3 linked regions of the Homo sapiens genome follow. The protein of the gene in region 1 interacts with the protein of each later gene in a pairwise test. Each region holds a gene or a part of one and is shown on either strand. Other genes may lie near its edges.

Region 1 (4,291 bases):
CTCGTACTCCTGACCTCAAGTGACCCGCCCGCCTGGGCCTCCCAAAGTGCTGGGATTACAGGCGGGAGCCACCGCGCTTGGCCTGCAGATGCAATTTTTAAAATCATTGAGCTATACCCTTAAGATGCGTGCACTTCACTGTATGAAAGTTTATCTCAATAAAAAGAGAGAATAGCGTAGTGACCTAGAACTTTGGACAGCCTTGGTTCAAATCCCAGATTTGTCTCTTCTTAGCTGTGTGCAAATCACTTCTTCTCTCTGTGCACATTTAATGCACACTTAGAAGTGGGCAGAGCACATAGCAGGCACTCAGTGAATCACTGTCATCACCATCATCATCGTCATTGTGTCCCCTGGGTCCTACTCCTATAGGAGAGGCTCCCAGTCACCATCCCACGTCTGCTTCCCTCCCTCTCCCCTGTTCTGATTCCACAATGCCATCGCCTGGTGAATTCAAGCTGCTCTGACTTTCGTGGAGTTGAAAACTCCGTGATTAGATGGCTCTGAGATTCCGTGACTTCCAAGCCAGTGCCAGGCTAAGTTCCTGCAGTTTCGAGAGTCGCCTGGCAGCGCGCCCCAACAGAGGGGATGCTGTCCCAGCCGCAGTCCCCGTCTGGAAAGCAGGCACAACACACACACCGCTTCTCTCTCCCCACTGATATATTTGATAATTGTCCAGAACCAGAGATGGCATCAGCCGGGGGGCTGAAGGGGAGTAAAAAAGAGCCCAGGGAGGTGGCTGGGGCGGGAGGAATGGATAGAGGGGTGAGGAGAGGGAGAGAAACTGACACAGAAAAGAGAGAGGAGAGAGGTTTGGGGCAGGGGAGAGAAGCCAGCCAGAGTGGGGGCGGCAGGAGATAGTGGAGGGGGTGGGGGCCAAGGTGGGGCCACAGGAAGAGAGGGCTCCTCCCCCCAGAATACAAAATTGGGGGGACTGACAGGGGCGGTCCTGGGCCTGGGGGACGGGGAAGAGATGGGCGATGTGGTGGGGCTGAGGTCAGTAGTAGGTTTCCTTCTCCACCCAACCTGGAGAGACAAAGAAGGAAAGAAAGAGACAGAGTAAGAGATGGAGAGAGACAGGCAAGGCGAGCCGCCCAGCAGAGAGAGGGACAGAGAGGGAGAGAGACAAGGAAACCACACAGACAGAGACCCGTGAGAAGACAGAGTGGGTGCCCGGAGAGATGGGAAGAGAGAGAAGAGTGGGAACCAGGTGGCAGAGCCATCCAGCAGGGCGAGGGGAGCCTGGGACCAGCTGCCTGAGACCCTGCTGCCCCCCGCCCCCCTCGGCTGCCTTGCCGAGCTCCCTCACCCCCTGGGTTCCTGCGCAGGATGAGTTTGCGGATTTCGTCGTAGACGAAGATGAGGAAACTGTAGGGGAAGGCACAGAACCACCAGCTGGGCCTGCAGAGGGGAGAGCAGGAGGGCTTGAGTGCGGGGCCCTAACGAGAGGCAGAGTTTCAGGGGACTGGAGGGGACGCAGAGGGGCAGTCTCCCAGGATCCTTCGTGCTCACAGGTGGAGGGTGCCCTGGGCGGGGCTGGGGCCTGGGGTCTTCGGAGTAATCCGTGGTGGGAGCAGCCTATGGGGGAGGCTCGGGGGCATCAGAATGGGGACTGCAGTGGGGACACCAGGGGAGGTGGGGCCTGAGGTTCAGGCTGAGTCTAAGGGAAGGCTCCATGGCAGGCGCTGGTGTGGGCAGGGCTGGGGGCAGCGGGGCACTCACTTGAGAGGGTACATGCGCAGGGCCACGTCCATGCCGGGGCAGTAGGACAGGAAGGCAGCCAGGGCCGTCTCCTCAAACAGCCCGAAGATCAGGATCTTGTTCCTGGAGGCACAGAAGGGCAGGGCTGGGCCCAGAGAGCACCCACCCTGCACCTGCCACCCCGCAGAGACAGGGGGAGGCACAGTGCAGACACCCAGAGACAGCAGCACAGACACAGAGACAGAGAGGCAGAGACATAGGGAGAGACAGAGATGGGGAGACATGCCCCGACAGAGAGAGACAAAGATAGAGGCAGAGCGATGGTGACACAGAAAGAGACAAAAGACAGGGACAGACACAGAGACAGGGACAGACACAGAGACAGACAGGGACAGACAGAGAGACAGACACAGGGACAGACACAGAGACAGGGACAGAAACAGACACAGAGACAGGGACAGACACAGAGAGGCACTGGTATAAAAAGAAAAGGCCAGGGGCACCTCCACCACACACACAGAGGCTGAGAGAGAATCTAGGACACACAGGACCCCTTGAGAGAAAATCAGTGCAGTGGCAAAACCCAAAATGGGCTGGGCATGGTGGCTCACACCTGTAATCCTAGCACTCTGGGAGGCTGAGGCAGGAAGATTGCCTGAGCTCAGGAGTTTGAGACCAGCCTGGGCAACATGGTGAAACTCTACTAAAAATACGAAAAATTAGCCGAGCCTGGTGGTGCGTACCTGTAATCCCAGCTACTTGGGAGGCTGAGGCATGAGAATCGCTTGAACCCGGGAGGCGGAGGTTGCAGTGAGCCAAGATTGTGCCACTGCACTCCAGCCTGGGCAACAGAGCAAGACTCTGTCTCTAAATAAATAAATAAAAATTAGCCATATATGATGGTGCACACCTGTAGTCTCAGCTACTCAGGAGGCTGAGGTGGGTGGGTCACTTGAGCCCAGGAGGTCGAGGCTGCAGTGAGCTATGATTACACCACTGAACTCCAGTCTGGGTGACAGAGTGAGACCCTGCCTCAACAAAACAACAAAAAACCAAAGCAAGGACACAAGAGGAAGTACACAGACAGACAGACACTCGGACAGGACAGATGGCTGTCCAGTCACCATGTGCCCCCGGCCCTCACTTCATGCCCTGCTGGAAGACCGAGTTCCTCCGGGTCTTGCAGATGATCAGATCGGCCCACTGGACGACAACGATGCTCACAAAGAAGGCCGTGTGGCAGGTGAACTCCACCACCTTCCTCTGCTCGTATGTCTGCAGGAGCGGTGACCAGGGCACGGGACGTCAGTTAGTGGCACTGCAGCCCTAGCCGCCACCCCGACGTTCCGGTGCTCTTTGCCCCGCCCCATCCTGCATGGGGTCCTCAGGGCCTCAGGTGTGTCTTCCTTCTGCGGGCTCATAGTCCCGAGGGAGGAGTCAGGAGACGTACAAGGAAGAAGAAAGGTTAATGGTGATCTCACCATCCACCAGGGGCCAGGGAGGAGGATAAGGACCCTGTGGGCCTCCCAAGGAGGACAGACAGCAACTGGGCTTTGAAGGGACAGACAGAGGTGGGGAAGAAGGCCTGGCAGGGCAGAGAGCTCCAGCAGTGGGACACAAGGCTCCAGATGGGCTGGGCCAAGGGCATCCAGGAAGCCCCAGGTGCCCAGCAAAGGCCTTGATGCTGCCATGGGAGACTGAGGGGGCCATCGTAGGAAGTGGCCATGCATGGCTGGAACAGCTCACCCCGGGGATCTTACGGTGGGCAGAGACACAGCACCCTGCCCTACTCACCCACTGCTGCCCGTAACTGTCTTCCAGGTCATTGACGGTGCGGTCATCCCAGTTCAGCCGGATGCCCACCAGGTTGCCGGGCAAGAAGCCATTTTCTGCCAGGATCACAAAGTAAGAGAAGAAGCCACCGAGAGCCTGGATCATTCCTGGAAGGAGGAGAGAGGAAGCCGAGGAGAGGCTCAGATTGGGGCCAGCAGCCAACCCAGGGCACCTCAGAGGGCCCGGAGGCCTCCTTGGAGAGGGGAGTATGCCCTCCTGGCCCTGTTATCTGGACATTGGTTCCCAGAGGGTGACCTGAGGTCTCACTTGGTGGTGAGGCCCTGAGATGGGTGGGCCACCTGGGACAGGGGCTTTGGAGAGAGGGCTCTCCCAGAGGGATAACCTGGAGCCCCTCTCTCACCTGACCTAGGCCACCTAAACATCATGAATTCTTGGGGGATCCCCAGCTTGAGCTCCCTACGCAGGAATGACCTCCCTGGGCCTGGAACCACTGCCATGAAGTCTCTGCTTGCTGGGACAGCCCCCAAGGGTGGCTGCTCCACTCCTCTGGGGATCCGCACACATCAACAGCAGAGAGGAGGAGGTGGAGAAGGATGGGGTGCAGACCCCCCCCACAGATAGCTCACTGGTTGGTCCTGCCCACGTCTGCTCCCCTGAGTCAATGCCAGGGTCCCAAGCACCCACGGTGGGCCAGGCACTGCTCTAGGCCCGGCACTGGGTGGTAAGGAGATGGAGTCCCCGGTGCCTCACCAATCTGCCCGTAGGCCATGCTGATGAGTCTCTCATTGACCAATTT
Region 2 (7,000 bases), on another chromosome or scaffold:
TAAAAATAGCAGCCTCATAAATCTGCACGGCATTGCATTCAAGCAAAGGACAATATGAGTAACTTAGAGAAATATCCACATTCAATGCACTTAATGAAATCCTGTTTTCTTTGGAGTTACATGAGGCAGCAGTACTAGCTAGTGTCTAATATTGCACTTTTATAGCATAAACACAGCTAAACATAGTGTTAAACACTGACAGCATCAGTACCTGTTCTAATTGCATCAGTGTTTACCTCTCAGTCTAGCATGCTGACTATAGTCCTATGCTTTAAAAGGTTATAATTATTTGACAGTTAAGGCATTAGAGGAAAAAGGTTTAAGGCTATCATAATATATATAAGCATTCACTTCTGTTCAGTTAGTGTATTGTTTTCTAGAATACACTGTTCAAATTGTCTCACTTCTGGGATATTAAAAACTATGGAATTTCTCTTATTAAAGTCCAAACCATCAATAATGAAAAAAGTACAATATAAAATAATACATATGAAGCCACAATATTCAATTACAGTTCAAACTAGAAATTACTAACTACATGTAGCTGCTTCATTTTTCGTTTTGCATTTTGGCCCCTAATTCATTATTTACAACTGATACCTGCTGAGAAAAAGATCCAAACTTTTAAACTTTGTATGTTTTGTGGAGGGTGCACAATTTCTTCTAATTTATCTTCAGGTGTTTTAAAATTTAATTTGTTTTTAATCATAAGATATCATCATGGCCAAGAGACTGGGAAAATAACAATTTTATTCTTTCTCCTAAGATTGTGATTTTATTATTCCAAGATCTTATGCTTGAATTACTTAGCAAGAAGGCATGATTATGCAGAAGACAGGGAAATGAAGAGAAAAGAGCGGGAATATACAAAAATGAAGCTTCCTTAACAGAGTTCATGGTGGAGATGGTAGACACTGGTGGAGTTTTTATCCAAGACTTAAAACTTAGGAAACACCTATGATGCCACTTTAACTGGAAGTAATGGAGACATCTGATTCCAAATTCACATTTTAAATGCCTATTTGCAATCAGCAAAGAGCCAGGTATGCTGCATGCTGCTTGCTGTAAGTTACGATTTGGCTTCACTAGCTCAAATTTTTTCACTCCACCAAAAGATAAGGCACAGGCCCGTTTGTCCAATCAAGTTTGCTGAAAATACTGCAGCCTGAGTGTAGACAAACTTCCCCTGAATTTGCTAGAAGTTTTCTTGTGTCTGGAGGTTTCAAGATCACCATACATCTTTCAAACACTGAAAAAAAAAAAAAAAAAAGTGAATAAAAGGAAATGTTATAGTCTCTAAATGTCATTCTCAGCAGCCACAAAAATGATTTCAAATTCCACAAGGACTTTGTGGAAAAAAAGCCTTAAGATGGTCCAAGTTATTATTTCACACAGACATAGTTGGCATTTACATGGCAAGGGCTTTGGGAGTACAGCACTAGCCAAGGAAGTTTCCATGGTTTACACAGTAGTTGGCGTTCTGCACCACTCCTACCCTTTGTAGTATCATGTGTTTAGTTTAACATGTATGGTTTCCGACTCCCTGCTCAGCTCAGCTCCTTTCTGGAGAGACTATTTCATTCATTCCTTAGAGGTTCAATATCATTACCAAAATAAACAAAACAATTTAGACAAAATTTTAAAGTTAAATTCTAGTATAAGAAATTCCAAATAATTTCTAAGACACTTAATAAGAAGCAATAAGGAGCCGGGCATGGTGGCTCATGCCTGTAATCCCAGCACTTTGGGAGGCTGAGGCAGGCAGATCACATGAAGTCAGGAGTCTGAGATCAGCCTGGCCAACATGGTGAAACCCCATCTCTACTAAAAATACAAAAATTAGCTGGGCGTAGTGGTGTGTGCCTATATTCCCAGCTATGTGGGAGGCTGAGGCAGGAGAATTGCTTTAACCTGGGAGGTGGAGGTTACAGTGAGCCAAGGTCATGCCATTGCACTCCAGCCTGGGCAACAGAGGGAGACTCTGTCTCAAAAAAAAAAAAAAAAAAAAAAAAAAAAAGCAATAAGGCATGACATAACAGCAAACATATGGGCTCTATATGCCTGTGACTAGTTGATGATTAGCACCTTTATATGGATCATGGATAAATTTATTTCATCCCCACATACAACCTTTTAGATTACCTTGTTATCCCCATTTTAGAGAAGGAAAAACTGAAGCACAGAATGATTAAGTTAGTAATGGGCAGATGCAGGATTTAAACTAATACAGATTGGTTCCACTATGTTATTTTACTTATATACCATACAACCTTAAAATAAGAACTTTTAGTAGGCATTATATATTGTTTTGAAACAGGGTCTAGCTCCATCACCCAGGATGGAGTATGGAGTGATATGATCCAATCATAGCTCACTGCAGTTTTTTTTTTTTTTTTTTTTTTTTTTTCAAAAAGAGATGGTGCCTTGCATTGTCACCCAGGCTGGAGTACAGTGGTGAGATCAGAGCTCGTTGCTGCCCCAAATTCCTGGGCTCAAGGTATCCTCCACCTCGGCCTCCTGAACAGCTGGGACTACAGGCACACCACTATATCCAGCTAATTTTCAAATTGTTTGTAAAGACAGATTCTCACCATCCTGACCAGTCTGGTCTCAAACTCCAGGCCTCGAGCAATCCTCCTGCCTTGACCTCTCAAAGTGCTGAGATTACAAGTGTGAGTCACAACACCTGGCCCTAGGCTAAATAAAAGAGATATATATATATTTTAGAGATGGGGTCTCCCTATGTCGTCCAGGCTAGTCTCAAACTCAGCCTCAAGTGTTCCTCTTGCCTGGCATTCTAAAGTACTGTAAAGTGCTGAGATTACATGTGTGAGCCACCACACATGGCCATTATGCATACTTTGACATGTAAATGAAAAACAGGAATGTTTTAGACTTCAGTCTTATTTCATATGGCCAGTATGAAATGTCTAATGGAGTTTTACTGCTTAACAATGAAACTGAAGACTCCTAACTGCTAGCAAAAAAAAAAAAAAAAGTCTCAGAAGCACATGAAGATTAATTTATTTCAAGATTAAATCTGCCTTAATAACATAGATTCTACAAATGGTACAAATCTAATATCAGGTATTTAAAAAACATGGAAATATTGGTTAGGATGCATCTTTTAAATGTGGTTTCCAAAGTGACCACAATTTGGCACTCAGTTTAAAATACCACATGCTGAAAGGCTTCTCCTTTGACACTAAATTCAGATAAGAAAATCAATGACCCAACACTATTGATCAGTATCTATTTTACCCCTCTTTTGGCAGTAGCACCTGAATTGAAAACAACTGCCCCATCACCTAATCTCAAGCCCCTAAGAGGCAGTTTTACCACTGAGCCAAACAAGGGGCCCAGACATGGCCAGTTAGAGCCCTGCATATCCCAGGTCATTGTGGTTTTAGGATGAACGTAAGCCAGGCCAGTGAAGGCCAAGTGTTGCTAGGGGTATCTCAGAGAGTGAGTTTGGATGAGCAAACCCTTGGATCCAGCTACATCAGTCAACCCTGGGACTGTCAGTTATTAGAGTCAGTGAGTACCAACTTCTTCATTCCTATCACATTTATACTAGGAAATAGCATCTTTGTAGATGCTGAAAATTAAGCCTTCATATTCTGATAAAATGTGGAAATGCCAGGAAAAGTTAAAGTTAAACGTTTAGCCTTCTCGAACCGTTTTTTAATGCCAGTGGAGTTTGACTGTGTAACAATGAAACTGAGGCCAGGAGCGATGGTTTATGCCTGTAATCCCAGCACTTTGGGAAGGTGAGGCGGGCAGATCATGAGGTCGAGATGGAGACCATCCTGGCCAACATGGTGAAACCCTGTCTCTACTAAAAATAATAAATAAGCTGGGAGTAGCGGTGTGTGCTTGTAGTCCCAGCTACTCGGGAGGCTGAGGCAGGAGAATCGCTTGAACCCGGGAGGTGGAGGTTGCAGTGAGCCGAGATTGCGCCACTGTACTTCAGCCTGGGGATAGAGCAAGACTCTGTCTCAACAACAACAACAACAACAAAAAGAAACTGCAGACTCCTAACTGCTAGCAAAAAAAAAAAAAAAACAATCAATCTCAGAAGGAGATAATGTTTCCTCTTCCCGTTTAGCTATAGCAAACAAAGTTGAGAATTACAACTGCAGACATTTACAAATCTGATTTCCCTTTCAAATAAGATCTGTGTTAAAACATGTTTTTATTTTGTAATACACTGTCATTAAAGTATTACATACAAAGAAGTCTTTAAAGATATCTGGATTTCACCACTGGTGCTATATGCTACAGAATGAACCTATAATCCCTTAAAAACCCTGCAATTCTACAGCCAGGCATGGTGGAGAACACCTATAATCTCAGCTACCAGGGAGGCTAAGGTAAAAGGCTCACTTGAAGGCTGGGCGTGGCGGCTCACACCTATAATCCCAGCACTTTGGGAGGCCGAGGCAGGCGGATCACGAGGTCAGGAGATTGAGACCATCCTGGCTAACATGGTGAAACCCCATCTCTACTAAAAATACAAAAAATTAGCTAGGCATGGTGGTGTGCGCCTGTAGTCCCAGCTACTCAGGAAACTATAAGTACTTCCTATGTGTTTTTACTGTTATTCTGGACTCAGATTATCTAAATGGAAAAAATAAGATCTTATAAAAAGTTTGTTCTTTTTAATCATCTTACACAAGAACTTGCAACATAAAGTTACAAAATGATCAAATACAGTTTTTATATTTTTTCATGTAATTAACTGGTAACCGTCCAGACAGAGGTAAATACTGTGTTATTTTTGCATAAAATTTCTCAGTAGGAATTTCTCATTATTTAGAAAGTTTATGTAATCTGAACTCTTTAGAACAGATCCTATGGAAGGCCTAGAAAACACACCTATCAAAAAAGCAAAGCCCTGTTGCTTAAGGCTGACAGTCCAATAACAAAAAAGGGAAAGATAACACTGATCTAAGTACTACACTCCAGCCTGGGTGACAGAGTGAGATTCCATCTCAGAAAAACACAAAAAAACCCTATGTCCCTATGATTATTATAATCATGACAGCAAAAGTTATGTATTAATATAAAACTTTAGTTTGTAAAACTTGTTTTCATTCATTAACTCTCGCTCTGTCGTCCAGGCTGGAGGGCAGTGGCACGATGACAGCTCACCGCAACCTCGACCTCCTGGGCTGAAGCCATCCTTCCACCTCAGCCTCCCGAGTAACTTGGACTACAGGCATGCATGACGACACCTGGCTATCTTTTAATTTTTTGTAGAGACGAGGTCTCACCACATTGCCCAGGCTATTCTTGAACTTCCAGGCTCAAGCAATCTTCCATGCACAGGCATAAGCTACCATGTACAAGCCAAAATATCATTAATAGATTTAAATTTGGGGGCTGACATTGCCTTTGAGACCTAACAGATACGAAACTTGGAACTTGGCCAGGCACAGTGGCTCATGCCGGTATCCCAGCCCTTTGGAAGGCTGTGGCAGAGAGACAGCTTGAACCCAGAAGTTCAAGACCAGACTGGGGCAACATAGTGAGACCTTGTCTCTATGGGGACAAAAAAAAGAAAAAAAAAAGAAAAAGAAAAAGAAGAAAGCAACTTGGAATGTAACAGTAACTGGAGAAAAACACCCTTTCTGGCGATCTGAGGAAGCATTTCTTCCAGCCCGACACCCAATCTCCTTCCCAGAAAGGCTTGTGGGCATCTTGAATGGTTAAATGAAGCATATCTCCACTGATTCAGTGGGATAGTCAACGTGTGTTGGCTGGGTTGATGGGACAAGGCAAGAGAAGACAGAATAGTGTGACTTCTTTACCAGACCTCGCTGTGGGTGTTAGCTTTCTTTACCTGATCCTATAGCCAGCCATGAGATCAATCGCTCAATTCTTTTTTTTTTTTTTTGAGATGGAGTCTTGCTCTGTCGCCCAGGCTGGAGTGCAGTGGCGTGATCTCAGCTCACTGCAACCTCCACCTCCCAGGTTCAAGCAATTCCCCTGCCTCAGCCTTCTGAGTAGCTGGGATTATAGGCACACACCACCACACCCAGCTAATTTTTTTCTATTTTTAGTAAAGACAGGGTTTCGCCACGTTGGCCAGACTGGTCTCGAACTCCTGACCTCAGATGATCCACCTGCTTCAGCCTACCAAAATGCTGGGATTACCGGCATGAGCAACCGCACCCGGCCCTCTTAACACACACACACACACACACACACACACACATACACACACACACACATTTTTTTTTGAGTCGGAGTCTTGCTCTGTTGCCCAGGCTGGAGTGCAGTGGCGCGATCTCGGCTCACTACAAGCTCTGCCTTCCGGGTTCATGCCATTCTCCTGCCCCAGCCTCCCGAGTAGCTGGGGCTACAGGCGCCCACCACCACACCCAGCTGATTTTTTGTATTTTTAGTAGAGACGGGGTTTCACCGTGTTAGCCAGGACGGTCTCGATCTCCTGACCTCGTGATCCGCCCGCCTCAGCCTCCCAAAGTGCTGGGATTACAGGCGTGAGCCACTACACCCGGCCCTCTTAACATATTTTTAAAAATACTGTTAGTTTCCTGTCACTGCTGTTACCATAAATTGGGTGGCATAAAATAAGAGGTATTCATTCTCTAACAATTCTGGAGGCCAGGAATGAGAAACTGTGTCAGTGCGGCTGTGCATCCTCTGGAGGCTCCAGGGAGCAGTCAGGTCCTTGCCTCTTCCAGCTGCTGGTAGCTGGGAACACTCCTGGGCTGTGTCAACAGCTCTCTCATCTCTGCCTCCCTCGTCACATTGCTGCCTCCTCTTCTGTATGTGTCTCTGTCTGATTTCCCTCTGCCTCTTTCTTACACGAGTGATTGTATCTAGGGACCACCCAGATAATTCATGATCTATTTTCCTCTCAAGAACCTCATTACAGCTTTTTCCATAGAAGGTAATAGTCACAGGTTCCAGGGATCAGGATGTGGACGTATCTCGGTAGCCACCATGCAGTCCACTGGAAGCACTTTGCCAT
Region 3 (7,000 bases), on another chromosome or scaffold:
AACACCCAGCAGCCAGCAGATGCTCAGGAAGGATTTGATAAGCTGAGCTGAGTGCTCGTCCCTCCAGCCGCCATTCTTGATGAGCCTCCGCTTCTTCCTGCCAGCCTGGCCTGGGGTTCAGAGCTTGGCCTCTGGGGCTGGACAGTCTAGAACTGAGCTCTGCCTCTGTCAGGGCGTCACTACCCTGTGACTTTGGGCAGTCTCACCTTTTGCCCCTTCAGTTTCCTTATCTGTGAAACACGGATAACAAGATTAGTTAACCTCATAGAGTGTGAGGAGTAAATGAGGTAATAACGGAAAGTCCTTAGAGCAGGGCCTGGCACATAGTAAGCGCTCAAGAAACGCCAGCATTCCCTACCTTGTTGCCATCCGCTTTCTCCTCTCCTGTCCATCCTCATGACCCCCAGATGCCGGTCTTTCTGAGGCACCTCCCCGCCCCCACCGTTTTCATCTCAGCAGCTGTGGTTTGATGGGAAAAGCATGAGACTCGGACTAATGACCATGAATAATTAGCAATTGCGACTTCTCTGGGCCTCATTTTTCTAATTCTTAAAATAGGGATAATACTACTTCGTGGAACTAGTGGGAAAATGAAATGAAAAACTAGAGCTGAAAGCCCTTTATACATTTAAATTATGTTGAGAGTAGAAGTTCCATCCTTCTCATGCTTTCTCTGACTCTCCATAGCTGACCATATAAGTTAAAACCCGACATTCAGTCAGGCTGCAGTCCACCTCCACTCCTCTCTCCTGGCACGGATCCTTGGTGCCCACATCAGAGATTCTGATTCTGTGATTTGGAGTGGGGCTTAGGTATTGATGTTTTATTTATTTATTTATTTATTTTTGATGGAGCATCGCTCTGTCGCCCAGGCTGGAGTACAGTGGCGCAATCTGGGCTCACTGCAACCTCTGCCTCCCAGGTTCAAACGATTGTCTTGCCTTAGCCTCCCAAGTAGCTGGGACTACAGGTGCGTTCCACCACGCCCAGCTCAGTTTTTATATTTTTAGTAGAGATGGGGTTTCACCATGTTGGCCAGGATGGTCTCAAACTCCAGACCTCATGATCCACCAGGCTCAGCCTCCCAAAGTGCTGGGATTACAGGCGTGAGCCACCGTGCCCAGCCACGTATCAGTATTTTTAAAAATTCAGCAATTTTGGTGTGCAGCCAAGGTTGAGAACCACCACTATAGCTCTTGACCTGCACTTGCTCTCTTAAATCTTACCAAGGGTAGCCCTGCCCGATCCAGAAACCCTTCCCTTCTGTATTGGTCTGTGTACTTTTGTTAGGTTTCTGTGATTGTAGAGTCATACATAGTGATAGTTTTCAGATGTATATTGCTGCTTTATTTTCATAGTAAAGTATGAATTTTGATGAACAAGGAACTGTTTTAATGTTTGTTGCAAGCCTACAGTGTCCATGTGCTGTCCATGAGCTCTGCTGTGTGCCGGGAAGGGGGACAGAAATGGCCATGGCCTCCAGGAGCTTATTGTTTAGAGGAAGCAACAGACGTGTAAATGATCGAGTACAGTGAAATGTTGGAACTGCTGACAGTTATCTACGGGAACAGTGTGGGCAAAGAAAAGGCAGTAGTCCTTTCTACCTGAAAGGTGTGTTTGGGACAGCATGAGGCCATGAAATGCTTGAGAGATTGCTTAGGTGAGCCCTGCAGACAAGCAGGCACTGGGCAAGCCTGGCATCCCTGGCATGCTGGGGCAAGAAAGCAGTCAGATTGTCTGCATAGGGATGCGTGGTAAAGAATGCCCACCGGCCCATCCTCCACCGTATGCCTAACATTATTTTCTTGTAATGAACTAGAATAAATGTTTGTGGTTACATGGAATTGGAATGCTGTTGTATAAAAACATTTACAAATAAGAATCCCTCATCCTGCTTACTGAGAATTTAGTATTTAGTAGGTTAGTCTTTTTAAAATAGTTAACCGCAGCCTGCATTATGAGGATGGCATGCCAGCATAAGGAAGTTAGCATCATCTTAGAGTGACCACAGAAGCTGCATCTGTCCGTGTGACTGGACACTGTATGTGTCCAGATCTCTGCAGGGAAGAGTCATGTCATACTTTAACGGAAGAGTCATGTCCTACTTTAGAGTATGACTGAGTCGCAGTCAGAGGGAAGTGTTTCCTCTGTGGCGTAGAACATGGACTGTTTGGAGGGCACTGGAGAGAACCAAAAGAGTGACAAGTTTTGAGCGCTTGTCATTTGAGAAACGGGAAAGAAAATGCGGCGTAATTACCTGTCTTTGGGGAGAGGAGTAGGATTGCTTTTGTTCCTCCAAGTAGGCAGAAACAGAAACACTGGGCAGCTGGTACAGAGAGACGGGTTTTGAGAGGCAGTACTCTGCCAGCAGCGCCGTCTAGCCAGCTGTCTGCCCGAGTCCGGGGGTCCTAGTGCCTTCTGCAGGATTACCCTATAGGAGGCATTTCCAGGGTGCTGATGTGGACTCATGCCAGAGGTGACAGTGTCAGCCATCCATGGTGGAAACACAAAAATAAGGACACTTAGTGAGCTTGGCCCAAGCTATTACATTGTCATCTCTGAGGTTATATTTGCCACACCTTTACCGTTGAATGTCCTTTTATCAAAATAGCAGTCATTGTTTAAGTGATATCTCTATGTTAAACCTTACATTTTTTTCTTTTTAATTTTATCGCTGTGTGAAATCCTAAAGTCTTGAAACTCCTGAGCTAGCTGACTTTTAATATCTGGGATCTCTTTTATCTCTAAATGATTACGATTCCTGACTTTTTTTTGATATAAACACTCAACTGCCGTTAAGAGTGCTCATGATAGGGAATAGATGCTGGGTTTGTTCATGTTTAAATACTGAGGTTCAAGTACCTGTCAGAAGGAGTTTATTATAAAAATTGCTGAAGGCAGATGTTAATTCTTCTCTACAGCATAGTTTTTCTGTTAAAAATTCTAACTCCATTTGAAGGTAAAATGGTATTAGAAAGGATCAAAGTTCCTTTACTGCTAATATCGTTAACATAGGTTTAACAGTCCAAACTTTGGAGTCACTAGGCAAACCTGAATTAGTGAATTCAGTCCCCATTTTATGACCCAAGGCTGGTTACTAACCTCTCAGAGCCTCTGTTGACTTCTCTGTAAAACATGGATAATACTGCTTTACAAGACATTGTGATGACTAAGTTAAATACTCTTCGCAACGGTTTAGCAAAGAGCTTCATTCATAGTAAGTTCTTAATAAACGAGAGCTATTATTACCACTTGCTAGAATTTTTTTTTTTTTTTTGAGATGGAGTCTTGCTCTGTTGCCCAGGCTGGAGTGCAGTGGCATGATCTCGGCTCACTGCAAGCTCCACCTCCTGGGTTCACGCCATTCTCCTGCCTCAGCCTCCTGAGTAGCTGGGACTACAGGCGCCCGCCACCATGCCTGGCTAATTTTTTTTTTTTTTTTGTATTTTTAGTAGAGACGGGGTTTCACCATGTTAGCCAGGATGGTCTCGATCTCCTGATCTCATGATCCACCTGCCTCAGCCTCCCAAAGTGCTGGGATTACGGGCATGAGCCACTGCGCCCGGCCTACTTGCTAGAATTTTTATGGACACAACTATAGGTGATTTCTAAGACATGGTCTGTGCACCTAAGATATCCTTAGTACTAGAATATATCAAAAGTTTACCAAAAATAAAAATATTGACTAAAGCTCTAATAATCTGGGCCTGAGTTTGCTGTGTAACCTGGAATAAATTATCTGAATGTACTATTGGATTTTTTGCATGGCCCATTCCATTAGTTTTATTTAATCTGCTTTTATATTATTTATCAGAAATATGCATTCCTGTATCAGGGAGAAAGATTGTTTTCATTATCTATTTCTAGTACAAAATAGGTAAAGAACACTTTAAAGATTTTTCTACCACTTAAAATATTAAATGGAAGATCATTTGATTATATTTCTTTTGAAAACAAGTAATCGTTATGCCATTTTTAAAAAGGAAAAATGCAACATTGCTAAGAATTAACCCAGAATGCATTTCATTCAGAATACATAGTTTACAAAATAACCGAAAAAAGAGGGCTCTAATTTAACAGTTCAGCAGATGGTGCTATTCCGATTATTATGCAACTGATCAGCTTTTCTGAAATTTGCAAGTGACTAATTTAAAACACTGGTGTATTATTTTTAACTCTCCAGTATGTGTTTCCTGAGTGGCAAAGTTACCGTCATATTGAATATTCAAAACACACTATTTCATTCATAGAAACTTGTGTTTCCTCAAGGTTTCCCCACAAGTAGAGGAGTTTAGATTCACAGCAACCAGTATTAATTTCTGGCCCCACCATGTAACTGAGACAACTCCTTTATTTATCTGAATACAATGGTAATTGTACAGTTTATCTGAATACAGTGTTAGTTGTATTATTATCTCAAGAAAATAGGTGGTAAAGGCCTAATTTGAAGTTCAGCAAATGTATATTGCTGTTGATATTTGTTTTATTGTTATTAGGAGCCATTCTATTAAAAGCTGGACATTTTCCAAAGTTTTGTCAAACTCTTTCTCTTTGGTTGTTGAAAATAAACTTGAGTTTTTTCGAAGCCACATTTATCATATTCTTAAATGTAATGTCTAACTCTGTTTCCCAGAATTTGATAGACATGATGAATCTTTCATGTTATATAGTCCGCAGATGGCATTTTTAATACTTGTGAATTCTAGTTTTCATTCACAAGTCAATATCAAACTCATCTTCAAATCTTAACCATGAATCTTAATCTTTGCATTTTATTTAAAATGCAATTTGCAAATTAAAAAAAGCCCCGTGTGTTAGTTGGCTAGTATTCATTCTCGTTTTTCACTTATCTTGTGCATGACACCTGCTCATTTTTACCGCTGGGTATATTACCTCATTTCAGTAGGTTTTCCTTTTTTTTCTTTTTCTTTTTTTTGCCACAGAACACTGTACAAAATTAAAATGAGGAAAATAAAGGTTGAGACTATTAACTTAATTACAGCAATGGAAGATTTTCCAAACCTAATTCGAAACATTAGCAATTAGCTTTTTAAATATCTGAGGCATTTGCAGTTTTAATTTCGCTGTACTTTAGGTAATTTAATATTGATTTCCTGTTGATTAGTACATAGAAATCCATCTGATGATCTCCGTTTCAGTGTTATTCTTCGCAAAGCCTTGCTAGTTTCAGAAATTAGGAACACAATGGCCCTGCACCTGAGAGGCTGCTGTGATTCTCCTGATTTGCCCTTTTGCACAAAGGTAAAATTGAGAAACCTGTCAGAAAGAACCAAGTGTACTTGCCAGAGGAAGTACTTTTTGGAAATGTCTTCCCTTCTTTATGAACAGAAGTATGTTTTTTAGAAAGAAACAATACTGAAATAAGGACGTATGGTGCTTTTGTTTGTTTTAAGTGATGTTTTAAATACATGGCCCAAATAAAATACATCAAGGCCTATTTAAAGTCCAGGCTTGGCGACCACCAAAGCAGCCTCCACAGGGTGCTGTTAAGAGGGAAGCACTGCATAGGGCCTGCCTGAACTAGGACACAGCCAAGGGCTCACATGGAGGACGGGGTGGAGACACATCTCGTGTACAGCAGGTGGCCAGGCACTCTGGCTGCTCTTCACGCTCTTGCCCATGGCTTCTTTTGAGTTGTGTGTAGCTCATCTTCATCTGGAATTTGAATTGGAACCTGGCTAAATGTGTCAGTTTTCCTTTTGAATTTATATAATTTAAAAAACCAAAAACTTTCATTATTGGTGTGTTTTTCTTTTCCTCTTTTTGCAGGCAGGTAACTTGCAGACTCACTTACGACGGCATTCTGGTGAAAAACCATACATCTGCGAGATCTGTGGAAAGAGGTCAGTGCTGGGCGTGTTCTTCCGTGTGGAAGGGAGCATGTCTAGTCTCAGTGTCTTTGGTAGTCAGTGTCTTCTGAAGTGGTGGCTCACAGATGAGCCACAGGTGGGCTCACCCTGCCACTGCAGAACACAGGTAAATTCAAACCTTCTGGCTTTGCATGTGACACACGAGAGAATAATAAAAAGAAAAGTTAATTCAAAGAAAGAAAAGCTGGGACAGGAGTCCCAAAAAGGAAATGGGGTTTTAAATGCAACAAAATTATTTTATACTAATATTTTCATTCATTCTAAAAATGTCTCTGAAAATATAATAGATTAATGCCCCCAAGGAGGTGACTGTCTAGTAGGGGAAATGGGACTTGGCAGCTGAGTGACTAGATTTCAGGAGAGAAGGAGGTGGTGGAAGGTGCCACAAGCCGTGGGTCTGTAACAGCCTGTGAGAGCTCCACCCCAGGGAGGAGGAAACTAAGTCTTGATGGGTGGGTAGGATTTTGACCTGGCAAAAGAGAATCTGACTCTTGACGTGGAATAAAGTGTGTGGCAGCTCGATTCCTCTGCAGCGTGGTATAAATGAGGAGCTCTTCCCCTGCTGTGTGTGCAGGCTGGCACCCTCGACCCTCCTTCCTGTCCTTGGGCTGTACGTCAATCAGGCCACGTACTCCATCATCTGGTGGTTGTGCCAGGACAACAGGCATCAGCCAGGACTATGCCAGTCACGAAGCTCTGTACGCACCTTGGTTACGTAGCTTTTATATTCATTTATTTAATCATTCATTGATTCAACATTTTTTAGACACCTGCTGTATGCCAAGTGCTATATGGGTCCATAAAAATAAACAGTACAGAGTCTCTGCCTGTCACAGATTCATACCGAAGTGCCTTGAGGCAAGAGATAGTCACGGGGTCAGTTAGAAGTCAGTGTCCTCATATTCAGTCTCAGCACATGCTGGGGAAAGCCGAGGAGGAAGCGACTCTCGATTCAGTTTCAGGAAAACCATTTCTCTGCCAATGGTAGAAAACAAACAAAAGCTGCGGCGGGCAGCGCATCTCCCTTTCTGCTGTAGCTACCTGAACGCTGAAAGTCAAGTTCAGGGCCCAGTGTCATCTGCCGCTCCTTCCAGATGCCTGGGAGCATA

The links. The genes of interacting proteins can lie anywhere in the genome.
Region 2: the proteins of ATP1A3 (region 1) and ESRP1 interact in binary tests that used the Homo sapiens proteins (3 or more experiments, as listed by UniProt).
Region 3: the proteins of ATP1A3 (region 1) and ZBTB49 interact in binary tests that used the Homo sapiens proteins (3 or more experiments, as listed by UniProt).

What each region holds. Positions count from the first base shown.
Region 1 is NC_000019.10:41,965,940-41,970,230, forward strand, and holds the end of ATP1A3 (sodium/potassium-transporting ATPase subunit alpha-3), read right to left. Parts: coding exon 4,246-4,291; intron 3,642-4,245; coding exon 3,496-3,641; intron 2,977-3,495; coding exon 2,846-2,976; intron 1,825-2,845; coding exon 1,723-1,824; intron 1,402-1,722; coding exon 1,310-1,401; intron 1,027-1,309; coding exon 998-1,026; 3' UTR 643-997; downstream 1-642. UniProt on the Homo sapiens protein: This is the catalytic component of the active enzyme, which catalyzes the hydrolysis of ATP coupled with the exchange of sodium and potassium ions across the plasma membrane.
Region 2 is NC_000008.11:94,700,174-94,707,173, reverse strand, and holds part of ESRP1 (epithelial splicing regulatory protein 1), read right to left. Parts: intron 1,250-7,000; coding exon of another isoform or gene 1,229-1,249; 3' UTR 1-1,228. UniProt on the Homo sapiens protein: mRNA splicing factor that regulates the formation of epithelial cell-specific isoforms. Specifically regulates the expression of FGFR2-IIIb, an epithelial cell-specific isoform of FGFR2.
Region 3 is NC_000004.12:4,307,251-4,314,250, forward strand, and holds part of ZBTB49 (zinc finger and BTB domain-containing protein 49), read left to right. Parts: intron 1-5,790; coding exon 5,791-5,864; intron 5,865-7,000. UniProt on the Homo sapiens protein: Transcription factor. Inhibits cell proliferation by activating either CDKN1A/p21 transcription or RB1 transcription.